2 separate regions of the Homo sapiens genome follow, and region 2 is linked to region 1. Evidence: fine-mapped expression QTL. Tissue or cell type: whole blood. Region 1 holds a variant in brackets; the other region holds the start of a gene. All regions are shown on one strand. Distances are between the middles of the regions.

What was found. PIP is the estimated chance that this variant, and not a neighbour inherited with it, causes the effect.
Region 2: it holds the start of SIRT5, and the variant in region 1 is fine-mapped to the expression of SIRT5 in whole blood (INTERVAL, PIP above 0.99).

What each region holds. Positions count from the first base shown.
Region 1 is chr6:13,802,194-13,804,874 of GRCh38, forward strand. MCUR1 (mitochondrial calcium uniporter regulator 1) reads right to left here. Exons shown (of 9, transcript NM_001031713.4): 3 at 50-153. Among named protein-coding and RNA genes, the nearest start is that of MCUR1, 11 kb to the right of the region's middle. The variant G/A (reference allele first, on the strand shown) is at 1,160.
Region 2 is chr6:13,573,430-13,576,110 of GRCh38, forward strand. SIRT5 (sirtuin 5) reads left to right here and starts at 1,172. Exons shown (of 10, transcript NM_012241.5): 1 at 1,172-1,315. LOC105374937 (a long non-coding RNA gene) reads right to left here and starts at 1,005. Exons shown (of 2, transcript XR_926497.4): 1 at 536-1,005. RefSeq lists a silencer at 725-1,244 and enhancers at 937-1,523, 1,455-1,934, 1,524-2,109.

The DNA.
Region 1 (2,681 bases):
TACCCCATCTTCACAGTCCTAATTTGCTAAACCACCCAACAAGGCTAACCTGCTGCATCTTGGTGACCATATCTTTGTAGACGATGTCCATGTTGGCCTCCAGGATCTTGACCAATGCAGACACAATGATTTCTGCTTGTTGAGTAGCAAACCCTAAGCAAGCACACAAGCAAAAAAAATCATGCTCAGAGTTACAAAAGCCCACAGCAAATGCACACATTCATGTGAATGTCCAAATCCAGGAGGAAGAGTACAGCACAGTGTGGTAGGAGGCAGGGAGGAGGGTACAGCCACAAACTATGACGTGCCGGTCACTCAGAGCAAGCACGAAACATACAAGTTGGCTTCCCCAGGTACCGGTGGCTTTGCTGACTGATCTGTAAGTCGTTCCTAGCTATCAAAAGTCATGTTTTCAGAGACTATTTAATGACATAGACAATGCCGGCAAGTCAACATCAAGTGAAAAAAGGCAAGACTCAAAATTACAGATGCAATTCTTGTTTTTATAATTTAACAAAAATTCATAGTCATTTTTATTTTCTTCTTTATGTTTCTCTGCATTATGTAGATTTTCTACGGTGGACAATATTTCTTTAATTTTATAATGTGTACATTATTAAAAAATAATTTCCTTAAATAGGAAAGCTCAGTTGTTTTATGTCCAGCATAAGGCAGTCAAATCATTGACTATATAAATAGTAATCTAGCTGTTGGCTAACTTCATGTTAAAAGACAAAATCAGTTCTTTCATTTTTCCTCCACAATTCTCTTCAGTAACTAGTCTGGGGGACCCAAAGTAGAAAAAATATGTTCTTTGGTAGTCAATAAATGATACTGAATTGAATGATAGAGATTCAATGCAGTACTTGGTATTTTTTTTTTTTTGAGACAGAGTTTCGCTCTTGTTGCCCAGGCTGGAGTGCAATGGCGCGATCTCAGCTCACAGCAACCTCCACCTCCCGGGTTCAAGCCATTCTCCTGCCTCAGACTCCGGAGTAGCTGGAATTACAGGCATGCGCCACCATGCCCAGCTAATTTTGTATTTTCAGTAGAGATGAAGTTTCTCCGTGTTGGTCAGGCTGTTCTCGAACTCCCGACCTCAGGTGATCTGCCCGCCTTGGCCTCCCAACGTGCTGGGATTACAGGCGCAAGCCACCAC[G/A]CCTGGCCAGTACTTGGTATTGTTTTTAAAAACATTGGATAGTAACTCCTATTTAACATAAATTCTAATTAAATGCTTAAAACTGAGTGCCTGGGAAATAGTTCTATTAAATGCTTCCAGCTATAAGAATTTCAGAAGAATCTATTGATTCCTGTAATTAATTGTGTATTTCTTGGAATAAAGTAGTACTTAATTAATGGAATTTGTGTGGCTGAGATGAAGCATGGGACTATAATGAACAAAAAAACCAAAGACACAGATTTAAAGGAGAAGGAAAAAAACCTCCAAAGACCTATTCCCATCACTTTCGTCAAAATTCTTTAATTTTTCAACATGTTATACACATGTCTAGAAAAAAAATACAAAAGGTTACTCACCAAAATGTTAACATTGTTTAGCTCTGACTCTGTTTTCTTTTTTCTCGTCTGTCTTCCTAGTTTTTAAAAACTCAAACTAAACTTTTGCCAAATTTTAAAGTTTTATTAAGAAGAGTTCACTGGCTGGGTGTGGTGGCTCACGCCTGTAATCCTAACACTCTGGGAGACCAAGGCGGGAGGATCTTTGAGCCCAGGAGTTCAGAACCAGCATGGGCAACATAGTGATCCCATCTCCATTTTAATGTAAATAAAATTTTAAAAAATTTTAATTAAAAAAAGAGTTCATGTTTAAACATAATTAGGTTTGGCAACTGGACACAGTGGTTCACGCCTGTAATCCCAGCACTTTAGGAGGCCAAGGTGGGTGGATCACTTGAGGTCAGCAGTTTGAGACCAGCCTGGCCAACATGGTGAAACCCCGTCTCTAGTAAAAATACAGAAAAATTATCCAGGTGTGGTGGTGCATGCCTGTAATCCCAGCTACTCAGGAGGATGAGGTGGGAGGATCGCTTGAAACCGGGAGGTGGGGGTTGCAGTAGGCCAAGACTGTGCCACTGCACTCCAGCCTGGATGAAAGAGTGAGATTCTGTCTCAAAAAAAAAAAAAAAAAAAAAAAAAAGAAAAAAATTAGGTTTGGCAATGATGAGGAAAAGAAAAATAAAGGTAGAAAGAGAACTTATGTTGATTGTAAAACAAACTCTAAAGCCATATACTTTATAACCACTTGTGGGAGGAGAAAGGGATATGAAAAAGTAGAAGTCTTGGCCGGGCGCGGTGGCTCACGCCTGTAATCCCAGCACTTTGGGAGGCCGAGGCGGGCGGATCACGAGGTCAGGAGATCGAGACCATCCTGGCTAACACAGTGAAACCCCGTCTCTACTAAAAATACAAAAAATTAGCCAGGCGTTGTGGCAGGCGCCTGTAGTCCCAGCTACTTGTAGTCTTAGGTACTCGGAAGCCTGAGGCAGGAGAATGGCATGAACCCGGGAGGTGGAGCTTGCAGTGAGCCGAGATTGTGCCACTGTACTCCAGCCTGGAAGACAGAGCCAGACTCTGTCTCCAAAAAAAAAAAAAAAAAAAAAAAAGTGGAAGTCTGAAAACCTACTGAGTTATGAGGCAGAAATTAATTTTTTGTAGACACGAGG
Region 2 (2,681 bases), 230 kb before region 1:
ATAACAGTACCTATTTCATCAGGTGGTGGGGACGATTTAAAATGGTTAATAATGTGCAGTTCTTAAAAGTGTCTGGCTCAGAATAAGCACCATACACGTTAGGGGGAAAAACAGCAGCCGGATGTGAGGCCCTCCCCAATTTCGTTACTCCATAAACCTCTGAGTTGCTGGTAACACCTGCAGGAATGAGAAGGGCCTCAACATGGGCTGAATTTCCAGCCAAACTGTGGGAAGTGGCTGAGATTTTAGGTAGGCAAAAAATGTTAATGTAACATTTTTGGCCCCCAAGTTCTCAGACCACTTACTTCCCTTTCTAGTCCACTGACATGCCCGCAAGCAATTCCATTCTGCCAAGTGGTGCTGGTGGCAAGCCGGAATCCAAGAAAAGGAAAGACTCCGATTTTAAGGGAACGGGGACATGCGGAGCCACGTGAGTCACTGGGTCCCAGAGCCACGGAAGGCTCTCAGCTCAGCAGTCAGAGTGCACTCGTCATTGCGTTCGAGGTTAGGTGGCCTAGCCTGGGAACCAACTCACCGTCATTTGAAATCGTTTTAGGGAAAATGACCCTAACATTTAAAATCCTCTCTCCTGAAGTTGTGTGGTCCAGCCGTTTGCTGAAGGAGGAAGCAAAGCCGGTAGTAACTCACTACATATTTGGGCAGTGGAATGAACCCTGGAAGCTGACAAAGTCGAAGCAAGTCACTGCGCCGCCCCCCACCCCCACCCCCACCCCAAATAAAAACAGAGAGACAATCCTTCAATTATAAAGAAGACCACGGCGCCCGGGTCTCCGGCAGGGGCCGCTGCAGCCGAGCAGAACGCTGAGCCGCTCCGCCCCACGGCCTCCTCTCCAGCCGGCGCGCCCGCCTCCCGCAGGTGCGTCTCTGCCTGCGCCGGGCCGGGGTCTCCGCGGCCTCTCCCGCTCGGGCTCCGGCTTCGAGGTCCCGACCAAGCACTGCTCTCGCGGGACTGCGCGCACCGCCCAGGGCCTGCCGCGGGCTCGCGAGCGGAGGTGGCACCGGTCCGCGGTGCGCATGCGCGGCCCGGCCTCTGCCCTGCGGTCCCGGGCTGGTGACTGGCTAGCGGTTGGAGGAAGGGATGTGGGGGATGGTGGGTGGGTACAGAGAGCTGGGAGGGAGGCACCCCGGGGGGCGGGGCGTGGGAGACTGTATTCGGGGGCGCGAGCTGCCCCAGGTGAGCCGTGGCTCAGGTCCGGAGCGCGGTCGGGACACAGCGCCTCTAGGAGAAAGCCTGGAAGGCGCTCCGGGGGTACCCAGAGCTCTTAGCGGGCCGGCAGCATGTGCGGGGCCCAAGGTCTTCCGGGCTCTGCGTGGGGGTCGCTGCGGCTGGAGACCAGGGAGGGGGATGGAAACGGGGTTGGAAAGTAATCCCACCCGAGCAGGTGGGCATGGGAGGCCGCTGTGCTGGGGAGCCCCGCGAGGGCTCCGAACAGAGCCTCCCTTTTCAGAAAGGTCACCCTGGTCATTGCAGCTGCCAGGGTGACCGAGGAAGGTGGCCGGGGTGGAGGCAGTGGGCGTGGAGAGGGGTCGGATTCCGGACGTAGTTTGAAGGTGGAGCCGTCAGGTTCTGCTGAGCAGCTTGGCTATGGGGCGTGCGAGAAGGGAAGGCTCAGGGCCTAGTCCCTGGGCACGAGTAGTAGCCGGGAGGATGAAGTCCCAGTGCTTCGGGGGGAGGCGGCTTGAGGACGGCTCTGGAGCTCAGGCTTGCCCGCGTGGAGTGGAAGCTGCCTCTTGGACACAGGGCGGGGAGGCCGCATGCAGTCTGGCGCGCTGGGAGGATGGGAGATCCAGAGGGGCAGGGCTGGAGGGGTAGGAGGAAAACCTGAAGAGGGTGGCGCCCGGAAGCCCGGGAAAGTGATGAACTGGGTCAGAGGCCGGGTATCAACAAATAGGAGGGTGGAGACGACCTTGAGGAAAGCAGGTGATGGAACGGGAGGGAATGGGGCCCCCTAGTGGAGACACCTGGGAGTGATGTATTGCATTTATTTAGCTCTTAGGCGTTCAAAAATTATTTATTGGGAGCCTGTACAACTTTTTGCAGTTCATTGCATTATCCTTAGCATGTATTTTGTTTTATATAAATATATATTTATATAATTATTTTTATTGACAAATTTATATATTTATAGCGTACAGTGTAATGTTTTGATATATGTATACATTGTAGAAAGATTAAATCAAGCTAATTGACATATCCATCACCTCACCTACTTATTTTTTGTGGTGAAAATCTACTCTCCTGGAAATATACAATACATCATCAACTATGGTCACCATGCTGTGCAGTAGATCACTAAAACTTACTCCTCTTACCTAACTAAAACTTTGTATCCTTTGACCAACATCCCTCCCTTCCACATCAGCCCTCTGCCAGGCCCCTGGTAACCATCATTCTACTCTGCTTCTATGAGTTCAACTTTTTTAGACCCCAAGTATATAAGTAAGATCATGTGCTGTTTGTCCTTCTGTGCCTGGCTTATTTTACTTGGCCTCATGTCCTCCAGGTTCATCCATGTTGTTGCAAATGACAGAATTGCCTTCTGTTTTAAGACTGTATAGTATTCCATTGTATATATGTGCCACATTTTCTTTATCCGGTCCTCAGTTGATGGATACTTAGTTGCTTCTATATCTTGGTTATTGTGAATAATGCTGAAAAC